Regions from separate parts of the Homo sapiens genome. Here all the other regions are reported to be linked to region 1. The links are microRNA targets in miRTarBase. Many come from high-throughput screens and were not tested one by one. Region 1 holds a microRNA gene; each other region holds the end of a gene's coding sequence.
Evidence for each region. Region 1 holds the annotated microRNA hsa-miR-8087 (GAAGACUUCUUGGAUUACAGGGG, at 5,661-5,683, shown strand). A microRNA usually pairs through its seed, bases 2 to 8, with sites in the 3' UTR of a target mRNA and lowers its output. Matches are read on the target gene's strand: a 7mer-m8 pairs with bases 2 to 8, a 7mer-A1 pairs with bases 2 to 7 and ends in A, and an 8mer does both.

Region 2: the mRNA of GOLGA6L4 is a reported target of hsa-miR-8087. Seed matches in the 3' UTR shown: 7mer-m8 at 4,325-4,331.
Region 3: the mRNA of SUGT1 is a reported target of hsa-miR-8087. Seed matches in the 3' UTR shown: 7mer-m8 at 2,088-2,094, 7mer-A1 at 2,166-2,172 and 7mer-A1 at 5,739-5,745.
Region 4: miRTarBase lists CACNB2 as a target of hsa-miR-8087. Seed matches in the 3' UTR shown: 7mer-m8 at 454-460, 7mer-m8 at 487-493 and 7mer-A1 at 1,063-1,069.

The regions. Positions count from the first base shown.
Region 1 is chr11:27,512,687-27,520,697 of GRCh38, reverse strand. MIR8087 (microRNA 8087) reads left to right here and starts at 5,651; the gene lies at 5,651-5,728. The region is part of intron 1 of BDNF-AS (BDNF antisense RNA); the gene reads right to left.
Region 2 is chr15:84,240,996-84,249,006 of GRCh38, reverse strand. It overlaps GOLGA6L4 (golgin A6 family like 4), which reads right to left. Exons shown (of 9, transcript NM_001267536.3): 7 at 7,898-7,958; 8 at 6,758-6,860; 9 at 3,649-6,547. The coding sequence ends at 6,415. It also overlaps the pseudogene UBE2Q2P8. Among named protein-coding and RNA genes, the nearest start is that of GOLGA6L4, 9.2 kb to the right of the region's middle. RefSeq lists an enhancer at 2,395-2,534.
Region 3 is chr13:52,687,416-52,695,426 of GRCh38, forward strand. It overlaps SUGT1 (SGT1 assembly cochaperone of MIS12 kinetochore complex), which reads left to right. Exons shown (of 13, transcript NM_006704.5): 13 at 319-8,011. The coding sequence ends at 420. Among named protein-coding and RNA genes, the nearest start is that of SUGT1, 39 kb to the left of the region's middle.
Region 4 is chr10:18,539,308-18,547,318 of GRCh38, forward strand. CACNB2 (calcium voltage-gated channel auxiliary subunit beta 2) reads left to right here. Exons shown (of 14, transcript NM_201596.3): 14 at 1-4,250. The coding sequence ends at 417. NSUN6 (NOP2/Sun RNA methyltransferase 6) reads right to left here. Exons shown (of 11, transcript NM_182543.5): 11 at 6,254-6,838. The coding sequence ends at 6,626. Among named protein-coding and RNA genes, the nearest start is that of CACNB2-AS1, 4.0 kb to the left of the region's middle.

The DNA.
Region 1 (8,011 bases):
ACTTGCCCCCTAGCAGAGTTGAAAACCCCTAACCTAAGCCAGCTTATACTTTCATAAAGAATTTTACTAAATCCTGAAGGAAAACATAAGATGAAATAACAAACAGAAAAGACAAAATATCCACATTCCAAATATGGGTTTCTGATGCCAGAAGAGTCTTGCCCTATCTCAAAATGAGCTAGTGTGACTATATACTTCATGGTTTAACTCAAAAGGAAATACTTATTAATTGTTGAGACAGAGGCATTGCATAATACCAGTGTGGGGAAGATGTTTTGAAAAGGCATCTTTAAACCATTCCCAGGCATTTACCCATATGCGCAGCTGTTCCTGTATAGGACTTTCTTCACATTAACAACAACAATAAAAACACATAAAAATCAGCCCAAGAGTAAATGTTTCCTAATGGTTAGAAAAATAACATTTTACCTGATACTGCGAATGAGAGATTTTCAGGTCACGTTTATTGAGAACTAGCAAGATGAGTCAGTAGCTAAGATCTGTGGAAATGCCCTTAATGACTTTTACAATTGTTTCCTTAATAATGGACTCTTAATAAGCAGGTCAATGTTAAATTAATTACATGGAAGTATTCTAAAAAGCATATTGAAACCTGATTTTAGCCCATTCACTCAAGGATTAAAGTTGTACTTTGGGTTTTTTTTTTTTTCTCTTCCTGATAGAATATCATCTATTGGAAGGAAATGTTTAAGCTTGGGGATGAAGTTTAAAATATAAAATTAATAAAGAGAAGAAAATGTAGTTCTAACAGCAACCAGGCAAAGGCTATGTAGGCCCAGAGCCACAATCTTTCTGCCACTCACTGATTTTATTACCCATGGTTCATTCAGCAAATGATCAAGGAGCTTCGGTAATATGCTTTGCTACCTGCTGGAGAGTCAGTGATGATTACAATGCCATTCTTAGCCGTGAAGGGGCTCACTCTCTGGTTGGGGAAAATAAACACTTTAGCAAACACAATACAATATTGATATTTTGTATACAGGGCAGAGCAGAGAATGGAACATTTGAAGTGGGTCTTGAAGGATGAGCAGAAGTTTGTTAGAAAAGGAAAGCGTGCCAAGCAGAAAGAAGAGCATGTAAGTATGATGCAGACTGGCGTACTGGAGAAGCATGAGCAGTTCTGTGGGACAGGACTACAGGATCTGAAAGGAAGAAGTAGGAGAAGAAACTGCCCATTATAGAAGCATCCAAATTATTACTTCTATGCTACCATTGCACCATTGTCACCAACCTCCTCTCCCAATCTTCACAATCAACCCAAATATAGTCATTTTGCACAAGAAATCCAAGCACAAGCATATTATAATTTTTGTAAAGATTACCAAAGCTCTGGAAGCCATGAAGAAGGGTCTCACAGCACAAACATCAGCATTGCACCACTCTCTCATTCCCTTGGCCTTCCTCACCCCTCACTGCCCATCCAACCCAGGCCCAAATATGCAGAATTTCTCCCTTCTCTGCAGTTTTGCTATTTTCCAACAACCAGAGGTTAATAAACATCAGACAACACCCAAAATAAGGGTGACTCCCTTAAAGGAATTTTCTTACAATCTGCTATGAGAATCAAAGCTTTTCCCTCTGATTTTATTTCTAAAACACACTTTTAATCCTATTGCTTCCATTTTTTAAATCCTTCAATAGCTCACTCTGGCCAAAAGAATAAAATCCAAACTTTAGCAGCTTGCACTCAGCCTCAATCTAAATGCTAAGCCCCCTTTCCTTTTACAGCTTCCTCAGGTTCCGTTGTGTAACCTATACCCCACTGAAGCCCTCCCTCCTACTTCCTGAACAGGGCCTATATTTTTTTTCCAATGGGGCTTTGCTCATTTAGTACTCTCTCTGGGATTCTTGTCCCCATTCATCCACTTGTGAAAATTCTGATCCTTCTTGTACAACGTATCCATCTTATTCAAGCAGGGTTTCTCAACCTAGGTACTACTGACATTTTATGCTGAGTAAGTCTTTGTTGTAGGGAGTTGTCTTATGCATTGAAAAATGCTTAGCAGCATCTCTGACCTCTACTCACTACGTGCCAGTACCAACCCTCACCCTGACTATCCATCTATCCATTGTCATAACCATTAAAAATATCTCCAAATATTGCCAAATGTCCTATGGGTTTGAAAATTGCCCCTGGTTGAGAATCACTGCTCTCTAATCTGTTTTCTGGTTACCTCCAGTGAGAAATCATTTCTCCCCACTCATTACTCCACAACACTTTGCAACTCTGTTAAAAACCCCTATAACTAAAGCAACAACAAGACCAACAATAAGCAGCAACAACTAAAGCAACAAGAGCAGAATAATATTTAATGCCATCTCCTTTGTTTCTGTTGGTTGCTTATATGTCTGACCCTTTCCACTGGGTTTGTGAGCTGTTGAGAGAAGGGTGAAGTCCTGGTGCCTCTAGACCCCAGCACAGTGTCTTACCATAGTAGGTCATAATTTGAATTGACTTTAATAAAGCTATTGTCTTCATCTATTTGTCTTCTGACTAGCCATTTGATGGCCACATCAGTTGGAAGATCGAGAAGCTAAAGATTATTGAAATGCTCTTTTGCAAGGTTTTGTTCATATCTGGGAAGTTATAAGAAACACTAAGAACAGGGAATGGTGGTTCATGCCTGTAATCCTAGCATTTTGGGAGGCTGAGGCAGGCAAATCACTTGAGATCAGGAGCTTGAGACCAGCCTAGCCAACAAGGTGATATCCCGTCTCTACTAAAAATAAAAAATAAATTACCCTGGCATGGTCACAGGTGCCTGTAATCCTAGCTACTCGGGAGGCTGAGGCAGGAGAATCAAGGCAGAGGTTGCAGTGAGCCAAGATTGGACCACTGCACTTCAGCCTGGGCGAGAAAGGAAGAAAGGAAGAAAGAAAGAAGGAAAGAAGGAAGGAAGGAAGAAGGAAAGAAAGAGAAGGAAAGAAGGAAGGAAGGAAGAAGGAAAGAAAGAGAAGGAAAGAAGGAAGGAAGAAGGAAAGAAAGAGAATGAAAGAAGGAAAGAGAAAAAGAAAGAAAGAAAGGAAGGAAGGAAGGAAAGAAAGAAAAGAAAGAAAGAAAGAAAGAAGGAAAGAAAGAAAGAAAGAAAGAGAGAGACAGACAGGAAAGGAAGGAAGGGGAAACATGGATCTGGAGGATCTGGAGAGGGTTTTTTTGTTTGCTTGTTTGTTTAATCTTCACACTACTGAATGGTTTGTAGTTGAGTAAATACTAGCTTTCAGAATCAGTTTGGGTTAAAACAGTAATGTGGCTTATTTCAATTTAGTTTGAGTCAGTTTGCAGACAATGGGTTTTTAGGTTTAAAATATAAAGTAGTGGTCCAAACCATAAAACATAGCATTGCAGTACATACAGGTAGATAACATTCCTACTGTCTCATTGGTGTAGTTTCCGTTTGCTGAAATTGCCTGAAAGTTCCTCAAGGACATGAACACATCTGACATTTCTCCTCTCTCCTGTAGCACCTGCTAGTAAACGTTTTTGAGTTAAGTTGAAAACTTTCCAATGAAGGGAAATAAATCTATTGACCGGGAATGCTGCAGGAACTAGGTTTAAAGGTAATTTCCAGAAGTTGTGGTGTAGTATGGCAAAGCTTGCTGAAGGCTTATCCCCATATTTATTTTACCTTTCTTCCTTGGGGACAGAGTTGAGATTTTGTAGCTGGGCTCTTTGTCACTCAAAATAAAAGATTTTACTTCCTAGTTCTTTTGCAGTAAGATGGAGACATGTAACTGAGTCTGGCTAAGAAGATATAGGTCAAAATATTATGTTGGACATCTGAAAAGGGTGCTTTAAAGATGCTTATTCAACTGGAAAGGGTGATTTTTACCCTTCTGCAATTCCTTATTCTTTTTTTCTGGCATGCAACTCACATGTAATGACTGAAATTCCTGCAGCCATCTCAGATTATGAGTGAACTTGACTATGGAAGCCATGTCCTAGGATGGTGATGCAAAATGAAAAAAGCTGGGATCCTGGTGATACCATGGGGCTGTCATACTTGCACCAAGTTACCTATCTATGGATTTCTTTCATTCACTTTAAATGCACTATTATTTTGGACTTTTGTGAGTTTTTTTTTTTTTTTCAAAATAGTTTTTTGTTTGTTTTCCAAAACAGGGTCTTGCTCTGCCACCGAAGCTGGAGTGTAGTGGTACACTACAACCTTGAACTTCTGGGCCTGAGCAATCTTCCCGCCCCAGCCTCCTAAGTAGTTAGGACTACAAGCACACACTATTATGACTAGCTAATTTTTTTTATTTTTTATTTTTGTAGAGACAGGGTCTTGCTATGTTGCCCAAGCTGATCTCAAACTCCTGGCCTCAAGTGATCCTCCTGCCTTAGCCTCCCAGAATACTGGGAATAGCTGGGCGCGGTGGCTCACACCTGTAATCCCAGCACTCTGGAAGGTCAAGGTGGGTGGGTCACTTGAGGTCAGGAGTTCGAGACCAGCCTGGTCAACATGATGAAATCCAATCTCTACTAAAAACACAAAAAATTAGCTGAGCGTCGTGGCAGGCGCCTGTAATGCCAGCTAATGGGGAGGCTGAGGCAGGAGAATTGCTTGAACCCGGGAGGCGGAGGTTGCAGTGAGCTGAGATCATGCCAAAGTTGGGATTATAGGCATGAGCCAACATGCCCAGCCTGGATTTTTGTGTTTATATGCAGCTATACCTAATTCTAATTGATGCATATTTAATTGTAATTCCACAATTTTTATGCCTTCCATGTGGTAGATCAATGGTTCTCAACAAAAAGTACATGTCACTCACAAAAACCTTTATATTTTCAGAAAATACAAATGTTCATGCCATACTCGAGTTTTTGAATCAAAATTTACATGGTGACCCTCTGACGTGAATTGTGTGACAAATATATTTTTCAACAAATTAGATAAGTTACATGACATACATTCAGTTATATATAGTATATACTGCGTGTGTGGCAAGAGAGAGAGATTTTTATAGTATTTCCTAATATTCTTTTTTATTCTTGTAAGGTTAGTAGAAATGTCCCGTTTCATTCCTGATTTTAGTAATTCCTCTTTTTTTCCTGGTCAGTCTAGTTAAAGCATTGTCAATTTTGTTGATCTTTTCAAGGAACCAGATTTTGGTTTCATCATCTTTCTCAATTGTTTTTATTTATATTCTATGTTTTCCTATTCTGTATCGTTATTTTATTCTAGTTCTGCCCTAACTTTTGTTGTTTCCTTTCTGCTACTTAGTTTGAGTTTAGTTTGTTTTGCTTTAAGTGTCTTAAGATAGAAGTTTAGGTTGTTAATTTGATATTTTTCTTTTTTTTAATATAGGCACTTATAGCTATAAATTTCCCTCTAAGCACTGCTGTAGCTGCATCAAGAATATATTTTTAAAGCCCTACAGAGAATTCTGATGTGCATGCTTGGTGAGAGTATACTGTACTTCTTTGCCACTATAAGGTTTTTGTTTTTTTCAATTTCCCAGCATGACTGCTGATCTTCTTCATAGACAAAGGTTTTTTTTATAAAGCAAAATACTTTGGCTTTGGTTTGGTTAGATATTGCAGAAAGACTCTTGATTGCAGCTCAGAAATTTCTTTCATAGCCTAATATAAAAATCAAGGACATGTTTGCTTTACTTGATTTTCTCTAAGAAGTGAAGACTTCTTGGATTACAGGGGCCCTACTTTAAGGGCCCTTTCAGTTGGAAGTTTTCCTTTCTGCCTGTATTTTTACTATGCATATTTTTGGCAGCCCAAAAGCAATGTTTATGTCCATTCATCTGATAGTGAAAGCTTACTGTGCTACCTAAGTCCTTTCTCTTGGTCTGTGTACTTTCCTATTTGCCTTGCTTTTTCCACAATTTGGCAGCATTATCACTTACTCCACGTGACAAGTGACATCATTGCTATAATGAGAATTCCAAGCAGCACCACTGGATCAAAGCCCATCTGTGTGCCTGCTCCCACACTTGACAAAACAAATTCCAAATTCATTCAGCATGCCGGTGCCATTTAGTCACTGTGACATATCCTAAATTTTGGACTCTGTGCAAAAACCAATCTGTGCCCACAAAATTAATCACGGAACACATTTTATGACGTTTGACAACAACTTAAAAGGTTCTCATCTCTGGCAGTTGGCTCTGCCAATCTGCAAGTATGTGCACGACAAATCCTGAACAATACATTGTGTGGCTGAAAATACATTGTGCAGGATGCACAACCTGAAGAGGGCCAGAGTTGAGTCCAACCAATCCTGAAGTCTTTCTCAGGGACAACTAAGCCAGACTGCTGCTTTGTGAAGGAAGGATGATGGCCCCAGGTACATGCAGAAAGCCAAAGAAAAGGCAACAGTTCATGTGCCAGTAGATGCTGAGAACCTTGGCACAATCGGCTGTGTTGGCAGGACCAAGAGTTTGCAATCGCTAATTTAAGCAACAAGATCCTGGCAAACCGATTTATATAGGGCAAGGGTGCGTCAGGAAGATGCCAGAAAAATACATCAATCTGTGCCTTTACATGTACTACAGAGTGATGATGAAACAAGTGACATTAAAAAAGTCAACCCTTACACTTTAATAGAATCTGCAACTCATCCTACAAGGAAAAGTAGGGTTTATGTTAGATCTCTGGAACTCACAGATGGGTTTCTATGTTCTGATCTGAGATCTGTGATAAAATTTCCCTTCAAAGGTGCTCTTGAAGAGATTTTTCCATACTGTTATGATTACTTAATTAGGCCAAGTGTTTTTATATATTGTTTAAATTATTTTAAAATGCAGACTCTTTAACATTTGACAATATCATTCACTTCAAATAAAATAATCTATTCAAAATTTTACTTTGCTGAGTACATCAGAGAAATTCTGTTAAAAAAAGAAGATTGAGACTTTAATTGTACAGTTAGAAGCCTTTACTTGAGAGTAATGTTCTACCCTGCAATGGCATAACTGTTTCAAATAGCTATTTTATGTAGTAGTGCCTATTTGTGTACAGTTCAACAGGCAATGAAATAGTAAAACACTCCACTTGGAGCATGTTGCTTCTCCATATTACTTTCCATTTTCCTAGCTTCCCTTTAGACAGCCTTCTACTCCCACTGTTCCCCACCCACTCCTTTTTTCACTTAGTACGTTGTATTTGCAATGTCTCGGGTTAAGAAAGCTTTTGTACCTTGGCAGCCTACTTAGGGTTTTCATTTGTTATACAAAGACTAAATTTCCATAATTTAGCTTTCACTGGGATTTGTCTAGACCCAAACATCCTATTCTAATTTTACAGTTCCTCTACATCTCTGAGGCAGGAAATAATATGAGGAAGCAACAGGTGAAGAGGAGTTCTTCCACACGAAGAGCAATTCTTGATTAGGAGGCCTGGTGATTTAATAACCTGGCAGAGGCATAGAAGGAAAACCAGCTTCCCTTGGTTCATGCTCCTAATGGCCTCCTTTGAATGTAGGACAGCAATCCATCTTCTCTTCTTTAATATGAGGGAGTTGACTCTCTAGATCTTTCCCGACGCTAATACTCTTGAATTTCGATTAACGAGGAACATTTCGGGGTTCTCTCCTTACACAATAGTTGATTCTTTTGTTTATTTTGTATGTTAAGTACAAGCTGGCTGTTGGTTAATTTCAGGCATATTTTTCCCTCTCAGAAGTAGTTTCCAAAACTTTTTTCTTCCTTATCTATGCCTAAAATAATATAAAATAAATTTTAAAATTAGCTAGAAATGCTGCCCTTTATGCAAGAGCTACATATTCTTTTATAATGAAAATCATTTTCTCAATAATTTTTCTCTGCAGTTTTATAGGGAAACTGAATTTTAGTAGAAAAAGGCCCTAGAAATAATCTTTTAAATCCTGAACACAGGTCCCTGTGTCAGGCTAGCTGTGTCAGAATCACTAGGGATTTTTTAAAATATAGATTCCCAGAGCCTTCTCCTAAGGATTCTGATTTGATAAGTCCATGAAGTTCAAGGGAATCTGTATTTATATTAATTACTTTA
Region 2 (8,011 bases), not on the chromosome of region 1:
CCTTTTTGTACTATCCATGACAAGTTCTTGATGTTATGTCTGCACTTCTGACAAATTCTTAGCAGTTAACTTACAAGGCAGTTAAGATTTTTGTTCAAGCACAATATAGCTAGAATAGGCTCATACGTTCAATAAAACAAATATTTACCAAGCATTTATTGAGTGGAAGATAAAAAGCACAAAGCATAATTATATTCTCCCCTGCCACCATAAAAAAATTTTTTAAAGCCTTATAGAATAAGGCATAACATGACCAAAGCAAAAATAGTGAGGACTAAAGAGGGGAGGAAGGGGAAATATCAGCATGAATTAAATATGACCCAGAAGAGCCTTGATGGTCAGACACGTAAAGACAAATTGGGTAGGGTTAGGGGGTGGCTGTCAGGGGCACATTCTACAGGGGAAAAATAGATGATACAGAAGCCTGAAAGGAAAAGCGGGCAGAGCACCTGGACAGGACTCTTACCTGCCGCATCCAGGGTACAATGCGCCTTTCCAGAACACAGCAGCGACCCGGGGTAGAGGGATCGCTCAAACAGCACCAGAGGCTGCATTCCAACTTTTCCTCCATCAACGAGTCCGTTTTCATTGTTAGTTTCTCCTTAAACACGATTGGCTGAACATGCGGGAACAAGGAAAACCTGACTGAAGAACGAGGCATTTAAGCTTAAGGGCCTTGGATCCGGGCGCGGTGGCTCAGGCCTGTAATCCCAGAACTTTGGGAGGCAGAGATGGGTCATTTGAGGTCAGGAGTTTGAGACCAGCCTGGCCACCATGGTGAAACCCACTCTCTACTAAACAACACAAAAGTTAGCCTTCCTCTTCTGCTTTTCCCAGCAGGAAAGGCCCAGCCTCACCTATGCAACCTGCAGCCCCCCGCCAACCAGTTGAGGCTCCCCTCTTAGACTTATATGTCTATGGCCAGTGCCATCTGGCTACCTGCCCTCCCTGCCTTCCCTAGGGTCCCTCAGAGGACCCTGGGTTTTCTGATGGCCCAGAGGGGCCTCTGGCGACCACTCCAGCCAGCCATCCCTTATAGCTCCACCATTTTGGTTCAGGCAGTGTTCCTTCTCTATCAGGCCTGGTGGCTGTTGGATGGGGCTCTCCAAGCAAGAGGTGGCCCTGGGCCAGTGGGTTGGAAGACATGGGGACCACAGAAGAGGGAAGCCCGAGGGAGCTGGCATTGGTCTGAACTGTGGGTGGATGGGTGGATTGCCTGGGTTCCATGAGACAGGCCAGCGTGTGTGGGGTAGGGAGGGCCGCCGCAGTCCCCAGGCACTACCTATGAAGCTCCAGCTTCTCCCTCCATCTCCCTCCCCTTTTCCTTCCAGCCCCTCTTTTCCAGGAACCTTGCCACGCCCACACGTACGCCCTCCCCTCCCCGGCCCTCCACAGCTGCTGCAGCGCACCCATACTCTGCACTTGCCTCACCAGCTCTGGCTTTTCTCTAACCCGTTTTCTCTCTGCTTTCTCTCCAACTGCCAGCTGATCGGGTCAGGCAAGTCCATCCCATCCAGGGAGCCCCAGGCCCCACTTCGACGTCTAAACAGATCCCTCTTCCCAGAGACCTCCCTTTCCAAGCCTGCCTGGGCGGGTGTCCTGTGACTTGACAGTGGCTCCCCCAGCCCCAAAGCCAGCCCCCTTCATCTGTGACTTAGTCTGTTGTAGTGGTGAGCTGACACGTCCAGGTGTGACCGTTGCTGAAAACTTGTGCCTCCTCTGTGGTATGCCCCTGCCCTGTTCTATAGCTATAAATTCTCACACACACATACACAAACACACACACACACACACACACACACACATATATACATATATACACGTGGCCAACTGCCTCACCTCTAGCACTGGGAATCAGTCCCCGTGCTGTGCTTGTGGAGTCTTGTAGCCCAGCAAGAGGAAGCTGTCTCCTGACATCGCCCCTCCAAAGTGCACCACCTCCAGTGAGCTTCCGGGACATGCGCGGCCTGTGGAGAGCCAGCCCCCGCCATCCCTCCCGCCCTTCTGGCCAAGCATGGCGGTGCTGTGCAGGCAGCTGTGTGGCCTGACAGTCTCTACCAGTCCTGCTGTCCCTCGGCTGAGAAACCCATTTCTGGATGACAGAGAATGTGTCCTCTGCTGGCTGTGTTCTCTATGGAGCTCAGGGGATGGAAAAGGCCAAGCCATTTTTAGGGTGTTGTTGGGAACAGTGAAAAGGTCACACCCTTTTCAAGGGACACTTTTCCTGGAAAGTCCCTGGAGCTCAGCTGGCTCTTATCCTGTGAAGCCGGCTCTGGCCACTAGGGGACAGGGCCCTGAACTCAGCCTGGAAGGAGCCTGTGGGGCAGCCGGCACTCTGGAGGGACAGACAGGCCACCTGGTGCAGACAGGAACGGGAGGAGGGGGATGGAACGGAAGACACCTGGGGTGGATGGAAGTCAGTGCCCTTGGGCACTGGTATCTGTCTTCCCTGCCACAGCTAGATCAGGCTTCTCAACCTGTTGACTGTCAGGGCCGGACTGTACTCCGTAGGTGCCATGGCAGTCCCCGTGAAATCCACCAGGTGTCACCAGGCAGCATACAGGTAACAGGCCTGGAAGATTCCCCACAGCCCAGCTGGACATGCTGAAACACTCTGGGGCTCCTCGTTGAGTGGGACAAACTGCAGGACCCAGTGAGGGAAACGGGAACATAACAGGCCGAGCAGTATGGCTAAATCCATTTATTCCAAAATCAAAAGCAAAACAACAACAAACCAAAAACAGGAGTCCCATCACCAGGGAGCCATGACCCCATCCCCGCCTCCTTCCTCGCTCCTATGCTAGCAATAAATAAGTTTCCCAGCCGCGAATAATTATAAGAACCTCTTCCTCATATGCCAGCTGCAACCTCCGCTAGGTACGATACAGAATGTTACACAGCTACAGTATGTACACGGGGGAAGGGGGGCCACCCCCAGCAGCCTGTGCCCTGGCCTGGTCTACAGTTAACTCCACTGTCCCGCCTCAGCTGCCTCTCTGAGTAAGAAGATGGGAGCCCCCCTGAGGGAAAAGTTGCTTTGGTGAGAGTAAGAAGGCCGTCAGACCTCCTCCAAACAAACCAACTCCACCAACCTCTGGCTCTTAAATAACAAACATCATCATCCAGAAATGTAAGGACTCAGCCTTGGTCAAGGTGGTAAAGGGTCTGTTTGTCTCCCTCCATTAGACAAGGGTCTTGTCTTGCTACCCTAATGGTAAAGGGCTGACTGGGGAGGGGTTGTAGGGACATGGTGGGGGTGAAGACTCCAGACCCACTTCTCCAGGCTTATGCTGACAGGGGCCTGCTTTTATTTATTTTTATTTTTATCCCATGACTTTTTTTAAATCCTGTAACTAATTTTTCATAACTTTTTAAAATAACTTTTCATAAAACTTTTTTTTTACTTTTTTTCCACAACTTTTTTTTGCCACTTTTCCACAGTATTTTTTTATCCTGTAACTTTTTCATCCCACAACTTTAATTTCTGTTAACTTTTTTAGTTTGTGTTCTTTTAATAAACACACTTACATAGTTACAATTTTGTAAGAATAAAAACCGATTACCTCATGCCAAGCATGCCGAGAATTTGCAGAGTCTCAATACCCAATACTATAGTTTTCAAGACACACAAAATTTTTAGGCAAAACAGCACCTTGAAACAATTTAATAATGTATTACATTACAGTAGCATCACAGAAGCAGTCAATAATGCCACTTTAGACAAAAATCAGTATTTCCATTATGCATTCTGTGTATAAGAATTCATAAATCGGTAAAAGTCATTCTAAGAAAACTTGGCAAATACAGCTTTGGACTGGAATTGGCATTTCTTTGTCTACTTTTCCTTCCCCTAGATTCTTTGTTTTAAACTACAGTATTCATATTTTAAAATGTTTTAAATTATTTTAAGACGTTAATATAGCAGTTACATTTTTGAATAGTTATTTGAAAGTGACTGTAAGATAAAGTTTTAGAGAATCTATTATGGATAGGGTTGATTTACATTTTCACATTTTCTAAAAATCAGCTTTGGTTTTAGAACTGATTGTTTTTCATTTTGGGAAAACCTACCAGGTTTAATCAATTACTTTAAAAATAATTATCATATTTTGCAGTCTTTAAATAGGTGTTTTGATTCTTTACTCCCTAGAGAAATTCAAATTTATTCAGTTGAAGTCACATTTTAAAATTCTATGTTCCTGCTGAACTCTAACCTTCTAATGTTGCCTTCTAAGCAAATTAAAGGCTGCCTTATACTGAATGAGGTAGAGAACAAATACTTGGCTGAATGAGGTACTGCAAAAGACTGCATGCACTTTGAAGAAAGACTTGAGTTATTGTCATAGGATTTCCATTCTCTTTAGCTTTTTCTTAAACATATGACAAAATACCTACACAAAGAGTCGTATTTGAATTAATATAGTATATTTATTTTTCAGACTGACATTCATCTTAAATATGCCAGTATGTGATTTAATCCACAGGTACCTGATGAACACATTATTGTCAGATTGGTTACAGTTGCTAAACGCTATCTGAAGGTCATTCCTATTCATTTATACGTGTCAGGGTAAAAGTGAAGCGATTTGAACTATAAAAATACCTTTGAAATAATTTATCAATGTATTAGATAAGCTCAGTTTCAGAATGATAAACAAAAACTGTTAGACCAAATAACGTGGCTAATTAACAGTGGTACGATTTCTAGCCCGAGGGTTTAAAATGGAGTTAAAGTAAGTGTCTTTAAACTGAACTCAAAGAATGCAAAAGCGGCAAGTTCAGACAAGGCAAGAACAGGACCTTTAGTCCATTTTAAGCCATAAATATTACACAAAATATGCCTCTAACTGAAACTGAGAGGTATAAAAACATATTTCACTCTTCGTAAAGAACTTTGTGAGGAAATATAACTCTGTGATTGTATAGACACTTTCCTCATGACACTTTGACAGTCACAAACAGTAGATTGCGCTGCAGTTTGTAAACATTTTACGTTGCATAAACTGCTCCTTGATTTTCAAATGTAGTATAATACTGTCTACTAAAACTCCTTTTTGTTTCAACTAAGTACTCTCACATATATTAGTTTATAATAATGTTTGTTATTATTTTTAAAGTGTTCTCCATTCAAGGAAAAGAAGTAAATTCCTATGTCAGATGGTTGAAGACTAGCTATTAGCCAGAGAGGTCTAGATGGTAAAATCCATCTTCTAGCCTCAAATAAGCTCCATGAACACAGAGGAATGCCAGGTGTCACACAGCTTTCCTTCACTCGAATTCATTCTTGACTAGAGCCTGTATATGCCTGTTCCAGGGGCATTTAAACTCTTAAAGGATTTCTTCTGATCTTTACTAAATACATTAAGGAGAACGCCAACCAGTGCCCTTTTGTGTACTGGGACATGTAGTCATGTGATTAAAACAGGGAACATGAACGCTGACTTTAAAATGTATTGTAGATATAAATGCTCTCAGCTAGAAAAGGTTTTCCACATCCACAGTCATGATGGGAGCCTTTCATTCCTCAGAAATAATCCCTTTTCAGGTCATCAAAAAAGAGTACAACTGCCACAGCTCATGAGGCAGTATCTTCATGAGCCCAGAGCACATACAAATCCTAAGGGAACTACCGTAGTACAGCGCTCATTCTTGGCACCGGAACAAATGAAACATATTCTATCCTGCACACACCTGCCAAAGCAGGCCACTTTCCTCTTCTGGGAGATTTAAAAACCTCCCCAAAATGTTATTACTCCCATCCCCAATACACAGAAAAAGGGGGAAAGGCTGTTTCCAGTGCTCCACCTTTAAACAACTGTAAATGTCAGTACTCACAGTGGCATATTACAAAGTAATAGACCGCGCACTTGAGGGCAAACTGCATATTGAGCTAATGAAGAGCTCACTGTGATTAGGATTCGATCAAACATAACAGCAGAACATAAGGAAATTTTATCTGAATTCCGTAATGAATATACAGGCTGTACTAACATTCAAAAAGCATGGCAGCCTATCCCAAACCAGCAAGAACAGTTGTGTGCATACAGTGGGTCTTTGTGTGTTTGAACTCCCACCACATAAGGGCAAACTCGATATGCATGCTAACGTCCTATAATTATCAAATTAAAAAAATGCTAAAAGATGCCAGAGTGAACATGAGAGAAACACCCACTCTCATTTAACTTTTTACAAATAAATTTAAATTATAAATTAGAAACACAAATAAATTTAAACTATAAATTAGAAACACAAATAAATTTAAACTATAAATTAGAAACACAAATAAATTTAAACTATAAATTAGAAACACAAATAAACATAAGTGGCTCTAACATTCAAATGAAGTAAATGAATTGTGTAGGATATTAACCCCTTAAATGTTTTGTTTTTTTTTTTCAATTCCTTGACCCGCTCTTAGATGATGGTGATGTTTAGCTCCCTGTTCTCCGCAGCCCGAAAAGAATGGCATGCAGCCTCTCCTGCTCCTCCTGCCGCCTCTCCTGTACCAACAGCTTCTCCACTCAAGCCTGGGTGCTCCTGGGGAGTCCTGCATTAGAGGAAGCAGCTGCTGGATCTGCTGTGCAGTGGGGTTGTCATGGGGGAGAACCCTCCCTGTCCTCTCCCGGTGCAGCCTCCATGCTATCAGTGAGGCTCAGCCCACTAAGATCTTCAGAGAGAGGGAGGGGGGTGGGAATCTGGGCACAGTGCGAGCCTCCCCTGCTCCTGCCTGCCCACCCCGCCTGAGGGCTCTACTCACCACCCTGCTTGTCCGCACATCCAAGCTCCTTGTGGGACTGGGGCTCCAGCTACTGGTCTGGCTGCTGCTGCAGACTCGGAGCCTCTTGGCTCTTCAGCTCCACCTGCCGGAAGACCCTGGGCATGAGGACATGTGGTGGCTGGCTTCCAGATTCCTGGCCCATTAATAGGGTAGCGAGGACACTGTGGGGCTCTGTGGCCTGCCCAGGCCCCTGGCCCCTTGCTCCAGGCCTAAGAGACTGTCTCCCTTGCCTAGAACCCCATGCCTCCTTCCCTAGCATCAAATCTCACGCCCTTTTTCCCAGCATTTAAACTGTAGGCCACAGACTGGTGGAAAAGCAGGCGGAGCCAACCACCATCTGCTAAGTGTGCTACATGCCTAATGTTTCCACGTATTATCTCATTTAATCCTCAGCACCTCTGCAAGGAAAAGGCTAACTTCCTTTTGAAGTTAAAGAAACAGAGACTTAGAGATGCAAAGTAGTTGAATTATGACCAGTGGAACCGAGGCCGGAATCCAGTTTGAATCTAAGGAGTCTTTTTTGTTTGTCTGTTTTGTTTTGTTTTGAGAGAGTGTCACTCTGTGTCCCAGGCTGCAGTGCAGTGGTGCAATCTCAGCTCACTGCAACCTTCATCTCCCGGGCTCAAGTGATTCTCGTGTCTCAGCCTCCTGAGTAGCTGGGATTACAGGCATGCACCACCAGGCCCGGCTAATTATTATTATTTTTTTTAATTTTAGTAGAGATGAGCTTTCACCATGTTGGCCATGTTGGTCTCAAACTCCTGACCTCAAGTGATTGTCCTGCCTCAGCCTCCCAAAGTGCTGGGATTGCAGGCGTGAGCCACCACACCCGACATAAGGAGCCTCTTATACCACTGTCTCTTCCTCTGTGATTGGGGGGCTCCATGCCTCTAGCTGGGATGATGATGTCCAGACCTGGGAGGACCCCAGGGCTACCCACCTCTAAAAGTCAGAGGGCAGGAAGCAAGAAACAGTCATAGGACTGCCCCGGAGGGTGCTGGGGTCACCTGTCCCCAGGCTGCAGCTGCCTGTGGCCTGGCACCTCCCCTCCCCAGAGGCTGGTGCCCGCCTCCCACATCTTCTTGGATGGGTCGGAGGTTACAGTCTCTTTCAGCTCACCCGACTTCTTCAGCTCCTTTACTTGCTGCTCCAACTGCAGTGTGCTCTTGTTCTCGTTGTTCTGGACAGAGAGAAGCAATCAGTGGCCACCCACTAAAACTGGAGACCCCAGAA
Region 3 (8,011 bases), not on the chromosome of region 1:
AGTTTTTCCACATGCACATCTATGCTCATTAGCAAAGGATGTAGTGCACCTCCCTGACTACTTTAGGATTTCCTTTTCAGATTTTATGGAACTTGTTAACCTCTGGAATGCCTAAGTTTAAATAAAAATATTGTTTTGAGTTTATATTGAGCTATATATTTTATCTGTATAATCTATTATATATGTATTGCATAGAGTTTATATTGAGCTGTATATAATAGCCAATATTTGGGGCTCTATGCTTGGAACATTTTAAGAAAAATATTCTATTTTGATTATATGGTCCAGGAATTAATCTATTTTTATTTTTCATTGCAGATGGAGTCGGGTGGTACAGTTTTGAGTACCAACTGGTCTGATGTAGGTAAAAGGAAAGTTGAAATCAATCCTCCTGATGATATGGAATGGAAAAAGTACTAAATAAATTAATTTGCTCTCATCGTATTGTGTATATTCACCTAATGCCCATTGTGTATTGATATTGCATTCTTGAATTTTGAACACTGAATATCTTTTTGAAAGATTATACTTCTTTACCTCTTTGTGCTTTAGAAATTATTTTCCTTCAAGTGTTCAAGTCTAATGAAGAATGAAGATAACATTTTATCACTTCTGTCCTTAAAGGTTTCAGACATGGTGAAACTGAATAAAGCATGTCATTTGCTCCTAGATAGATTCATTCTATCTAGTTGTGGGGATGGAGAAATCTTTAATGGTATATTTTCGGTTATTGCCTTATTTTTGATACAGTATTCTGTCAGTAATTTATTAGACCTGGCAGCTTTGGGTGAGCTTAGATTTTTCACCTTCAGTGTTACATTGTGTTTGCTTTTAAAAACTGCTTTTGAATGGAGTTGTAAATACAATTTTTCTATGAAGATGTTTGGTTTATTTACCTTTTTCTTAAGTTTTTAATGAGAACTTTGAGAAATTATCACAGGGAATTCCCATGTAGTTCTTTTAATGGGAAGAATTTGTAAATTTAATTGCACTGAGATATTTTGGTCGTTACCTTGCAAGTTTCTGTATAAAACATAGATACCTGAGTTTTAACACACTGCAAGTTTATACTAAGGATAATCTGTGAAGGTAGGGCAAAGAAGGTTCTAGGAAAGCCCAACTCCACTTGCTTCTTTTATCACGACAGGATTCTTGAAATTACAGCATTGGTGGGTTTTTTGGTATTTTTTTTCTTTATTAGAAAATCTCTGTTGTCACGTCCCCATGATTACTTTGGTTTCATTGGTTTATGGTAACTGCTGTGAGAGTAAATTAATGTGTATATGTTTAGTATTTACTCTGTGCCTAGAATATATAGATATCATGAGAATACAAAAAATTAAAGACATGATTATTAACTTCAAAGAGCTTATAAATGTAGCAGGGAAAAAAAATAACATTCATGAAGGAACTGTGGAAAGATTGAATGCTGAACTCGGTATAAATACACTTTAGAGACAGGAAAATGTTCTGTGATTAAAATTGTTTACAGTCTAGGCTGTTATAAAGTATAGACTATGGATGACCTGTAGATCTGACTTTGTTTTCTCACCATGATTTTCTCAACTGTAATACCCCAGATGTTGGTCTCAGCTCTGTTAGGTGTCACTAACATTTTTATGGCAAAGCACTACTCTATACCCTCAGAGCAGGGGGAGTGGGAGGCAAACGGGTCATCATTTCAGCCTCCAAAACAGTAGGAATTCAGCTCCTTCCTTCTCGTCCTTTGTTGTGGGGTGTAGGGGAGTTACTAAGGAAAGTTTCAGTAAGGTGATACCAGATGGTGCCCAAACCTGTTGTTATAGCTTGTTTAAGCATTCTAGAGTTTTCACTTGTCCTTCTGTCCACTTAGAGCTACTAGATACATTTTTTTCTTCTTGAACACTGAAGGAAAAGGCAAAATTAAGTTTTGGTTGGATGGATTTCTAAAGTTTTCTTCTTAGGAAAATAGGATAGTGACTTTTGTATTCTGTATGTTAAATTTTCTCAGTACCATTAATCCTAAGATGAAGAGGAAGGCTATTGCTGCAGAGGCATAGTTGAGGACGTATAGCACTATACCAGAGACAAGAATGCTTAGCTCTAGCAAGTCTTCTGTCATTGACTACCTTCATAATCTTCAGCAGGTTTAGGCCTTTCTTAGTTCCTTTGTAAATAATCCATAGAGTCTTAGAGTTATAATTAAAGGTCCATGGTTCTAAATACAGAAGCATATTTTTGCCGCTTAACTTTTTCTTTCTTAAAGATGACACTATTAAAATAGCTGTTTCTGACCAGGTGCAGTAGCTCATGCTTGTAATCCCAGCATTTTGGGAGGCGGAGGTGGGCAGATCACCTGAGGTCAGGAGTTCAAGACCAGCCTGGCCAACATGGTGAAACCCTGTGTCTACTAAAAATGCAAAAATTAGCTGGGTGTAGTGGCATGCACCTGTAGTCCCAGCTACTTGGGAGGCTCAGGCAGGGAGAATTGCTTGAACCGGGAGGCAGGGGGTGCAGTGAGCCAAGATCATGCCACTGCACTCCAGCCTGGGCGACTCCATCTCAAAAAAAATAAATAGCTGTTTAAAAAAAAAAAATCTGGTACTATCTTTAGTTGGTTTTAAAGGATATATTATCTAGAATATGCTTACCCATTGGCTAGATTTGCTAAGTGTTGTGGGATTTGGGATTTTGCTGGTCTGAAGGGAGTTTGTAAAACACATGACTGAAAGCATTATAAAACATACCTTGTCAAATACATTAGATTCATTATAGGTCAAGGGAATTTTGAAAAGTAGGCTAGATTGCTGCCTAAGAATCCCACTCTAAAGTACTGCTTTGTTTAATCATTCTAGATAATGGAAGCTTGTAAGCCTCCAGAAAGTTAAAACAAAAAACTTCTTTCTGATTAAGAGCCTCTTAACTCTATCCTTATCCTCTGCTATCTCAATGTAGCTATTAATTGTTCCCTCTTTGTTTCTAGACTCCAATTTTCATTTCTCAAATTTTGGTTCTCAGTGCTGTTAGTATTAGTAGCCTTTTGTTTCTTCAGAATGTATGTATTTTTCCTCTTAAATGTTTCCTTTCCCTTTTAAGGTTAGTCCTGGAATACATGTTTTTCTTGGTCTTGTAGACTTCATCTCTTCTGATTTCCATAATAATTTGCACCTTGATGAATCCAGAATTCTCCCACTGTCTTCAAAGAATCTTGAATAGAATAATCTGCTTTTTGAACTCTGCTATCTAGTAATCTCTTTAGATATCTATACCACAAGTTTGAAACATCAAGGTCAATTTTGATAATTTCCTGTCTTATGTCTTAATACCCATTCAGAGTTGACTGCCAACTAACAAGCTCAGCCTTTAGCACTGGCACTTACTGGCCAATCTGTTTTCTGTCTATAGGGAGTGAAATGGAATGGAGAAAGAGGATGGCTTGCATTAATAACTCTAGTTTTTAAAAACATTTTTATTCCTTTTTTAAAAATTTGTTTAGAGACACGGTCTTCTTCTATCACCTAGGCTGGAGTGCAGTGGTGCGATCATGGCTCACTGTAGCCTCCAACTCCTAGGCTCAAGTAATCCTCTTTCCTCGGCTTCCCAAAGTGCTGGGATTACAGGTGTGAGTCACTGTGCCTGGCCCACATTTTCATTCTTGGCTCACTGTAGCCTTAATCTTTCAGGCTCAAATGATTCTCCCATCTCAGCCTCCCAAGTAGCTGGGACCACAGGCATGCATCACCACGACTGGCTAATTTTTGTATTTTTTTTGTAGAACCGGGTTTCACCATGTGCCCAGGCTGGTCTTGAACTTCTGGGCTCAAGTTATCTACCTGCCTCAGCCTACCCAAAGTGCTGGGATTACAGGAGTGAGCCACCATGCCCAGTTATGAACTTCAAGTAAATATTTAAAATGGAGATACATCACAATGCTATTATGAATAATTTAGATAGAAATTTTAATTTAGTTCAGTACTTAAATATTTTTTGGCTCTTCTTTCCCACTTTACCTTTCTCTATTCCTTCCTCAGTTATCTACATATCAGATTAGATTATTGATATCTGAGATATATCACTGACCCAGAGCAAAATTGCATATTAGTTTACCATCTAATCAGCCTAATGCACTTAAATTCCCTTGGAATCTTTCCTGTTCAGATTGGTGTGCATCTCTCTGAACTTGTAGCTTTACTGACATTTCCAAAAAAAGGTAGACGGTTTCTAGGTGGTGTGTGTTTTTGTTAGTTACTAGAGCCACTTACCCTTTGTAACTAGCTCTAAAGAAGTACATCTTTTGCTCATACCTGCTACTGTAACCATATGACAGTATGGATTTAAGTTATTTCTGCCTAGAGGAATTAGATGATAAAAGCTAAAAGGACAAAATACTGGTTTCTGTGCAGGGAAGGGTCATATGTAGTTTTAAATAAAAGGGTTCATCTCTTTTGATGTGGTTTCCCTTTCTCCATCTGTGCATTTTTTAAATCGTAAGATCATTTTACACACACCAAGAGATTTTATTTTGGGAACTTGTGGGGAAAATATTGATTTACCTACAAATGTTACTATTTGGAGCCATCCTTGTGATTGGTTTCTGAGATTAATTTAACTCTTAGCCTCACTTCCTACCTTAGTAAAGTTGCTCCTCCAAATCAGCTAAAATCATATACAATGAATGCTGACTCATTACTGCAAATAGTGGTAGTTACTGTGTACTAGCATTTCTTATGGATTGGGTGGCATTATCTCATTTTTAATCGCCCTTCAATAGCATCCCATTATTGCAAATCAGAAAGATGATGGGGCCAAAGTAAAGTTCTTTGCCCAGGTCACTCTACTAGTAAGTAATTGCAATAGCTGGGATTTGAACCCAGGCCTATCAGACTCCATTACCCATACTTCTGACAACTGCAATCCTCTCATCAGGTTAATAAGCTAGATGTGGAATGAATGATTTTTATTACCAAATCAGCTGACTGGAAATGAAGCAGAGAATATTCAAGTTAAAGAACTAATTCTTTTTTTTTTTTTTTTTGAGACAGTCTCACTCTGTCGTTCAGGGAAGGAATGCAGTGGTGCAATCTTGGCTCACTGCAACCTCCACCTCCCAGGTTCAAGTAATTCTTCTGCCTCAGCCTCCTGAGTAGCTGGGATTACAGGCATGGGCCGCCATGCCCAGCTAATTTTTGTATTTTTAGTAGAGACGAGGTTTCACCATGTTGGTCAGGCTGGTCTTGAACTCCTGACCTCATGATCCGCCCACCTTGGCCTCCCAAAATGCTGGGATTATAGGCGTGAGCCACTGTGCCCAGCCAAGAACTAATTCTTATATAGGAGCTGGGAAGATAAATTCCTAGAGATCCTCACTTTCTTAAGTAGGAAAGCTTATTAGGAATCCAAATCTTTTGCCTCATACTGGAAGTAATGCAAAGAAGTAGTCTGATTTTTGAGAGGGTGCTGTTTTTCTCAAATCTAGATCATTACAGAGAAACAGTGTACTTTTAACAACTGTTGCATGTGTAAGAAGACTGGTACATGATGCCAATGAAATTCTTTTTTTCCTTTAACTTGGGAGCTCTCATACCAGTTCCGTTGTACAAATGCTGAGATTGTTTCAAGGTTTTATTCCTACAGACATGTTAGGATTTGTGTATCACTGATTTCTCCAATAAAATTTGAATATTTCAGGTTATTTCCTTTTTCCTAACTTATGTTAGCATTTTGTATATATATATATATTTGAATTTTGGCTTGTCTGGAGTCTTAAATATTTGGTATGCCTTCACATTTGGATTTTTAGTTTTATTTTTACATTGAGACTTCTACCTATATCATTGACTTTATTTTTTCCTATGATTAAAGGATTCAGTTATACAAAAAGATGTTTCAGAAACACTGCTATTTACCTAAAGGTAATTTTCAGTTTCTTTAGAAGGAGTTAGGAAAATGGTCCTTAATACCTATATAGGGTTTTTTAAAAAACTGTACCCTATAATGCAGCCACAGAAGATCTAAATAATAAACAATTGCGCATACTATTAATATATATTTAGAGCTTTTGTTAAGTACATGAAAAGACAGTATTGCATAGTGGTTAAATGCATGGACTCTGAAGCCATCCTGTTTGGGATCATCCTGGCTACATTGCTTACTAGCTGTGTGACAATGGATATAGGTGCTTAATGTCTCTGTGCCTCAGTTTTTGTGTCTATGTAAAGGAGATAATAGGATCCCCCTCATGCCTCATGGTCTTAGTTGAATGAATTCATGTAACTCCACAGGTATCTTAATCCAGAAGGCTCAAAATACTAATGTTTTGTGTGTGTGTGTGTGTGTGCATGTGCATCTGTATGACAAGTGATATAAAACGTGACCTGAATTTATAATATGAATAGTCACATTTTGCAGCAGAAATATTAAATGTTTAATTATAGAATGCTAGCACTGATCCTGCTGAAATTGTTACAAAATACAGCAGTTGCCCCTTAACTGTGGCAGATACATTCCAAGACCCCCAGTACTGAATGCTGTATGTACATTTTTTATACATGTATACTTATGATAAAGTTTATAAATTAGGCACAGTAAGATATTAATAATAGAATATACAATATACCGCAATAAAACTTATGTGAACAGTTATTTTTGGACAGCAGTTGACTGTGGGTCACTGAAATTGTGGAAAGCAAAACCATGGATAAAGGGGAACTATTAATAGTCTATCTGTATTGCATTATCTTCTAAAATCCAAAATTCTGACTTCAAAAACTCATCTGAGGGTTTTGGAATTGTGTATCTATGTGTGTGAAGTGCAAAGAGCAGTGCTTCATGTGACAGATAACATCAGATGATCCTAGGCTGGAAGGTGGAAATCCTAGAGAAGATTTTTTTGTGTTGTAAGTTCAGTCTTTCAAGATGTGGAATTCTGTCTGAGGAAAGTATATCACCTAGTTAACAATTGTTACTGTAATTTATAAAATTTGTACTTTGGAGAGCATAAGAATTCATGAAAAGTTTTTAATAATTTTACTTAAACAGAGCTTAATTATGTAAGTATTGTCAGCACTTTATAAAGAATCGTAAAATAAAATAGTGGCAGAAAATATAAACTAGATGTAGAATGTTAAGGAACTTTCGGAAGTTCTCTGGTTTTCATTTCAATTTCAAAGCTCAAAACAGAAGGTAAAACTATTAGGATTTGTGAAAAATACAAGGTACAAAATCACGCAGTTTATAAACCACAGATTGTCTTGTTATTCCCATCAGTGAAAAGAAGCTGATATTTGTTTGTGTTTGTTTTTGTTTTTGTTTTTGAGACGGAGTCTTGCTCTGTCGCCCAGGCTGGAGTGCAGTGGCGCCATTTTGGCTCACTGCAAGCTCCGCCTCCCGGTTCACGCCATTCTCATGCCTCAGCCTCCCAAGTAGCTGGGACTACAGGCGTCCGCCACCATGCCCGGCTAATTTTTTGTATTTTTAGTAGAGACAAGAGTTTCACCGTGTTAGCCAGGATGGTCTCATCTCCTGATCTTGTGACCCGCCCGCCTCGGCCTCCCAAAGTGCTGGGATTACAGGCGTGAGCCACCATGCCCAGCCTGCTGGTAGATGTTTTTATGAGTTAATTCATCAATCTTATTATTCTTGCCCCAAATGAATCAGTGTGGAGCATATACAAGTGTGTAGACATTAATATGGGCTCACTGTCAGCTGGGAGTTCTCACAACTACCACTTTTTACTGATTATCTGTTTTCTAAACTTTTTCTGTGGCTTGAAGTGACTGAAAGTGAACACATTCATAAGTAATGAGCTTAGGCTGAGGATATATATCCAGTGGGGGATGAAACATGCTTAAGAAATTGAGTGCATTTCCTTTATTATTGTTATTATTTTGCTATTTCAAAACAATTGACTTTAAAAAATTATACTTCACCACAGAGACAGGTGTTGTTTTGTAATGGAAGGAGTAGTAACTTATGAATCTAGACTCTTAAAATCCCAGTTCTGATACTTTCATAATTGTGTGTTTTGAGGGCA
Region 4 (8,011 bases), not on the chromosome of region 1:
GAACCAGTCAAGAAATCCCAGCACCGCTCTTCCTCCTCAGCCCCACACCACAACCATCGCAGTGGGACAAGTCGCGGCCTCTCCAGGCAAGAGACATTTGACTCGGAAACCCAGGAGAGTCGAGACTCTGCCTACGTAGAGCCAAAGGAAGATTATTCCCATGACCACGTGGACCACTATGCCTCACACCGTGACCACAACCACAGAGACGAGACCCACGGGAGCAGTGACCACAGACACAGGGAGTCCCGGCACCGTTCCCGGGACGTGGATCGAGAGCAGGACCACAACGAGTGCAACAAGCAGCGCAGCCGTCATAAATCCAAGGATCGCTACTGTGAAAAGGATGGAGAAGTGATATCAAAAAAACGGAATGAGGCTGGGGAGTGGAACAGGGATGTTTACATCCGCCAATGAGTTTTGCCCGTTTGTGTTTTTTTTTTTTTTTTTTTGAAGTCTTGTATAACTAACAGCATCCCCAAAACAAAGTCTTTGGGGTCTACACTGCAATCATATGTGATCTGTCTTGTAATATTTTGTATTATTGCTGTTGCTTGAATAGCAATAGCATGGATAGAGTATTGAGATACTTTTTCTTTTGTAAGTGCTACATAAATTGGCCTGGTATGGCTGCAGTCCTCCGGTTGCATACTGGACTCTTCAAAAACTGTTTTGGGTAGCTGCCACTTGAACAAAATCTGTTGCCACCCAGGTGATGTTAGTGTTTTAAGAAATGTAGTTGATGTATCCAACAAGCCAGAATCAGCACAGATAAAAAGTGGAATTTCTTGTTTCTCCAGATTTTTAATACGTTAATACGCAGGCATCTGATTTGCATATTCATTCATGGACCACTGTTTCTTGCTTGTACCTCTGGCTGACTAAATTTGGGGACAGATTCAGTCTTGCCTTACACAAAGGGGATCATAAAGTTAGAATCTATTTTCTATGTACTAGTACTGTGTACTGTATAGACAGTTTGTAAATGTTATTTCTGCAAACAAACACCTTCTTATTATATATATAATATATATATATATCAGTTTGATCACACTATTTTAGAGTCTTAATGCCAAGTCAGCAGATTTGCTTTATGAATTACAGGGACTAGAAATGCCCACATTCAGGAAATTTGTAATAACATTGTCTAGACACCTATCCTCATTCTAGTAGAAAGTGTGTACATACTGTAAATATGTGTGATTGCTTGACTTGAAAAGGTTTGAATTCTGAATGTTATACCATCCTTGTAAGTAAGTTTGTAATTTCCACCATAAATTATGGTAAATATAAAACTCCAGAGGTTGTTCTACTCCATACAGTTCACACTGATTGTGACACATTCTTAGTAGCTAGTGTCTGTTCTAGTCACTGCACTGGAGTCTACGAGCCGGAACTCGCTATATGCACGTGTGTGTGTCCGTATGTAAGAAAGTGTGCACCGAGTGACTGAATGGTTGAGATGAATTGGAATGCTGAAGACTAACGAAGAAACTAGAGACTGATATCGAGCATTCTGCCCACCTCGCTCTGTATTTAATTAATTGTGCTATATGTTGCTTTAACAACCCATTGAGCAGTCAGGGAATGTGAGTAAGCTTGCTGCCAAAGGTAACTAGGAAAGCATTCATCTGCTGCCTCCTTGTTTTTGCTCCTAGAGAGTGAAAATACAGGCAATTTTACTGTGAGTGTTTCACTGGAAATGTACAATCTTTGTGTGTTAGAGTATTTGTTTTAGTAAGAAATGTTTACACAGCTTGTGGAATTATTTCGTGGGAAAATAAATTTTTATAACTTCTCCCACTTCAATTTCTAACCTTGCCTATTGTTCCTGTTGTTTGTTTACCTCCCAGTTACCTACCATTCCTCCCCACCACCGACTCCAGCAGGTTCACTGTCTGTCAGAACCCAGAAGTGCTTCTTATAACCAAAGTTTCTGTTCTTCAGAAGAAATCAGGGCAAAATGGGGTGACTTGAAGTGAATAAAATGTTAAGAATATTATCCTACATAAGACATGTACACAGAAGGGGAACCTTGAAGACATTATCTCCATGCCTCAATTACACTGCTGTAAGAAGCTTACAATGTCATCATGTTTAAGGCTAAGACCTTTTCCGTGTCTCAAGTGTATATTTTGTCCAGTTATAACTGGATGGTAAGACAGTATTAAGAGTGCAAGTACCTGGCACTTGAAGTTTGTCCCAGGAAAATGCCTGTGTATAATTACCTAACTTCAGATCTGCACATTAACTTATTTAACAAAATAAATCAGCCGGGCGCAGTGGCTCATGCCTGTAATCCCAGCAATTTGGGAGGCTGAGGAGGGTGGATCACCTGAGGTCAGGAGTTCAAGACCAGCCTGGCCAACGTGGCGAAACCCCGTCTCTACTAAAAAGATAAAAAATTAGCCAGGTGTGGTGGTGCACACCTGTAATCCCAGCTACTTGGGAGGCTGAGGCAGGAGAATTGCTTGAACCCAGGAGGTGGAGCCTGCAGTAAGCCAAGATCACACCACTGTACTCCAGCCTGGGTGACAGAGTGAGACTCCATCTCCAAAAAAGAAAAAAAAACAAAAAACAAAAAAAACTATCCAGCAAAATTATAAAATCTACTTTGTTTTGCTTCCTTGATTATTCCAAGTTCTTACCAAATATTCTTAGCCTTTTATAAGTAAAACTGTTTTACATTTAACTCCTTATTTCCCTTACCCCCAAGAAAACGCAATATTAAAAATGATTAAGCTGGGGTGGTAGAGTATACCTGTAGACCCAGCTACTTGGGAGGCTGAGATAGGAGGATCCCTTGAGCCCAGGAGGTGGAGGCTGCAGTGAACCGTGACTGTACCAATGCACTCCAGCCTGGTGACAACCTGGTGTTTAAAAAAAGAAAATAAAAATTAGTTACATATATAATGTTTTATCAGCTTATATATGAAAAAATTTCCCTCAGTTCGTTAATTAGCCCTACACTGTTTACATAAATTTATTTACTGAGTATAAAATCAGTAGTCATAATAAACTTGACAATTCTTACATTGGTAGGAAACCATATTCTAATTAAAATTGAATTTATAAAATATTTCTGATAAAACTTTTGTCATGGTAAGAGATTCACAATTATTAGTTCAATCCTTTATTATTTCATCCCAATTAATGATTTTAGAATATTTAAATTCTTGAAACATAGCTAGTATTTATCTTACTTGCTGCTATCATTAATCCCTTTCAAAAAGTAGTGGTGAGAGTTTCCATCTTTTTTATTTTGTATCTAGATTCTTAGCTTGCACTTTACTGTAGAACATATTAGTGCAAATCAGAATATTCCTCAAAGAACTAGCTTGAAGGATTTGACATAAGAGCCGCTATATGTGAAAAACTGTATAGTGGACATATGTGTAAACTGTGTAGTAAATCTGTAAATGAGGAAATAATCTCAAGGGCAATGGGATATTTACTGACCTGCGGAATGTAAAGTTACAGTCTTTTCACACAACAAAGGCTTAACCTTAACCTACTCAGTTGTAGAGCCATTTTTGTAGTCAACCTAGAAAATGCTGGAAATGTATTTAATAGTTTTTTTTTTTTTTTTTTTTGGTCATATCCATTTCAGTCTTTCCTATGCTCTTTCTCTACTGCTCATTTAAGTTACTGTTACAAAAAGGTGCTGCTAAATGTAGGATGTCTTAGTCATGTTGTACTTTGGGACAATGCCACATTTTTAACATGGTCTGCTATGCATTCCTGTTAAACATTCACTGTCAGCTACACTGAACTGTCTAACAAACCTGGTTTAAAGTAATTCATATAAAACAAATAAAGAGCTGGCTTCTGCACTGTTTATTAGTAGTAGTATTAATTGCCATGTTAGAAATGATTCATGTAGTTGAGACTATATTAAATATTCAACACTTCCCAGCTGCAGGGCATCTTTCTTGGGGCAATGCTAAATACTTTATGTTCCTTTAGTAATCTTCCTATTATGTCTGATTAAAAAAAAAGATACCTCCACGTAGATAAAATATTTTATTCAACGTGAGCTCTAGCAGAATAATCTGGGTCAGTTATGAGTTCTGGATCAAGAGTTTAATTTCTGCTGCGCTGTACTTTTAACTATTTGTACTTTGCTTCATTATTTAAAACATGACACAGGGTTTTAAAGTAAATGTACTCACTGTTGAACTTAAGTACTTCTTCTGTTTCATAGAAATGTTAATATTAAATGTTAAAATATATATTAATTTTCCCTCACATTTCCCTGATTTTTTCACCTTATTGCATTTTTTTCTTATACTGCTATGTCCCATAAGTTTATGTGATTTTCCAGTTTGCTTAAGTTTTTGAAAGGAAGAAACCCACTGAAAATTAGCTCTGTTCAAGGAAAAATTCTGAATAGTATTCTTTGTCCTGTTTCCAATATGTAAATACTTTTCTTCTATTTACTGGCATTGGTTGTATTTTGATATTTGTTGGTATTAATCAAACATTTACACCAGTAAAAGTTTGTTGCTAGGCTGATTCTCTGCCATTTTCATCCCAGCTTAGCAAATAAGGATGTGCAGCAAGCATTACAGAAAATGATTTTTGTAGAGTTTCTTAAAAGACATTTAAAGTTTAAAGAGGTATGCTGAGCCCTAAAAAGATAAGTCCCACAGGAAAAGTGTTTCTCTTTAGTCAAATGACAGCTACTGGATATAAGGCAGAATGAGGGATGTAAGAGAGACACATGTTTGCTTGAAATAATTTTTCTCTCAAACAATAATCATCTATTGACTGTTTGCTCTGAAGCTGTGACAGAGAAACGGCAGGACAGGGTCTCTGCCTGGAGGATGTTTCCCAGGTGTGGGGCTGGGGCTTAAGGTGCATGGCTAGAAAATTTGAATGAGAGTGTCGTAAGTGCCAGGAGAACATTAGATGTGGGAGCCAGGGGCACAGAGAAGGGGAGCAGTGCCTATCCAACCTCAGGGAAAGGTATTCAAGAAAGCCTCCTTTAAAGAAGAGGCAATCTAAAGGTCTTACCTGATCCAAGAGACCTTGCAATCCTTATGGATACAATAAATAGTTATGAGAAATTCCTAAAGAAAACCTGTGGAGGGCGGGGCGGGGGGGCGGGCGGAAATCAAACTATTAACCAATTGTCCATTTCTTAAGCCCAAGGCCTAATAACTTTTGGGTGATTTGAATGAAAGTTAACAAAACAGTATGATGGATTTAACACCATGAGACAGCCTTAAAACTATGGCTGGGAAGTAAGTATTCTGATTGATCTAAAAAGCCAATAGGAAGGCAAAATCCTAAGGCTGTAATGTTTTTTTTAAAAGCTGGCTGGGTGCAATGGCTAACATATGTAATCCCAGTGCTTTAGAAGGCCAAGGCAGCGGGACTGCTTCAGGCCAGGAGTTCAAGACCAGCTTGGGTAACAAAGCAAGATCCCATCTCTTTAAAAAAAAAAAAAAAAAAAAATTAGCCAAGCATGGTTGCACACAACTGTGTTGTCCTAGCTACATGGGAGACTGAGGCAGGAAGATTGCTTTAGCCCAGGAGTTTGAGGTTGTAGTGAGCTATGAAATCATGCCACTGCACTCCAGCCTGGGTGGCAGAGCAAGACCTTGTCTTTAAAAAGTAAAATTAAATTGAAAAGCAGTCACTTATTTTGGCCACTACAGTGGGATGCTTGATTTTTGCAATTCGAAGGATGATCTGCTTTTTGTCTGAATTCAGACTTGATTGTGGTCTTTTTTTGTCTGGATCTATGATAGGTACGGCTGCCTTGTCTGATGTTGGGGATAGGTGAAACTGCTTACGTTCAACAGGAGAACACCAAGGCCCAGCTATAAGGGTCAGGTCAGGCCACTTCCCAGCTGCCAGAGCTGGTTTTTTCTTTCTCACCAAGCATTTTCTAATAACTGATATGTTTCAAATACATGATAAGTTATCCAAATTGTAGAATAATCTCATTTTCTAAATCTACAAAGTAAAGAAAATACTAACTTTACTTTTTCGTTTAAAATTATGAAAAACATTGAACATAGACTACCATTTAGACTACGATAGTCTTTAGACTATCACTTCACACTATCATTCAGAGGAGGTCCAGACTTCATTTGAAAGGGGGTTGACTTACTAAATAAGCAGACAGAGAGTCAGGTAAAATACTTACCTCCATTATTGGCACATAGTCAATGTTTTACTTCCCATGCCCTGAATCCTTAAGAAACTAGGAACCTAGAAACAAAAACAACTTTTCATAACCACATCAAATATTGCTAATTTATTCCTTTTGTTAGATTCACTAATTTTTAACATTAAAAATGACTTGTACACTTTACAAATTAAAACATTAGATCACAAATGAAAATATGCTCCAGACATCTATAGGCATCTGCTTTTCTTTATACTCTACTAAATACATAAAAAAAAAAAATCTTTTAAAAACAGAAAATATAATCTCATACCACCCCCTACTTCCTCTATGTCTCTGGATCCCTGGTAAAACAGCTGGCAGCCTTTTCTGTTTCCATAGCAACCACATCATCATTCAGTTGGCCTGACAACACTTTGGTTAAAAAAAAAAAAACCACAGACAGCAAATGTTTGGAATTTTCATTTCTGAGCATCCATCCCTCTCCTATGTGCTTTTGCATTTTACAAATTTTGCAATAAAAAAACCTATAGAGTCCTTATTAGCCAGACGCAACATGTCTTCTCTTCTGGCCTCTCTAAGAGAGTCCATGTCAGTGTCCGGTAATGGCACAGCCGATGGATCAAATCGCTGCAGCTGTTTCAACTGTTCACATGAGAGCCCAGCTCCCCTCATTCCTTCTCCTCCAATCTGCGGTTCCTGTTTGGAGAAAGTGGATCAATATGGATGAACATCCTGTAATTAGCAAGTATGACTGCTACAATTTAAGTTAAAAGACAAATTGGGCTGTAACGACTACATCTTCCAAAAATAGAAAAATGAGTAAATGCCTTTCATTTTGGTGGAACATACGTGCTGCTTTCCAGACAGTAAAGTAGGAAAGCAATACTATGCGTCACCTGATGAACAAATACCTATTATTACATGCTTATCAAACACTGTGACATTATCAAAGGCCTGAGCTTCCTAGTTGGAAACAAGTGGACTCAAATTGCAGCTCTACCACATTTTAGCTGTGTGACTTTAGGTAATGTTAACTAACCACATTTCCTCATCTATTAAACAAGGCTTAAGTAACGAAGGTGGTATCACACCTGGCATATAGCAGGGACTCAGTAAATGGAACATTATTATCAATAAAGCAGCAAAGGCCAGGCACAGTGGCTCACACCTATAATCCCAGCACTTAGGGAGGCCGAGGCGGGCTGATTACCTGAGGTCAGGAGTTCAAGACCAGCCTGGCCAACAAGGTGACACCCTGTCTCTACCAAAAATACAAAAATTAGCCAGGTGTGGTGGTGCATGCCTGTAATCCCAGTTACTTGGGAGGCTGAGGCATGAGAATTGCCCGGGAGACAGAGGTTGCAGAGAGCCAAGATTGTGCCTGGGCAATCCAGCCTGAGCGACAGAGTGACACTCCATCTCAAAAAACAAAAAATGAAAGAAAAGAAAAGAAAAGAGAAGGAAGGGAGTGGGGACGGGGAGGGGAAGAAGAAAAAGAAAAAGAAAAAAGAAAAAAGAAAAAAGAAAGCAACAGAAAAAATTCAGCTTTATTTAACAGTTTCCAAAACTGAAAGGTGGTCTTTGGGCATCTAAGGTACCTCTCTCTGACCCATACCAGTTGGGCGAGAAAAGTTTCTAGAAAAACAAACATAAGAAAGGAAACATAATTTAAGGCTGTATCAATTAGTTTAGAGGAATCATAAGGCATTGAATGATACTTGCAAACTACTGAAGAAGATCTATAATCCTAAGTCACCATCACAGACAATCATCTGCATGTTAATGAAGATAGGTTTTCAGACATATACTTAAGAAAACAGATCGTTTATTATCCCATGGAGGTCAGGGGAAAACTTCCCATCCCTTTTA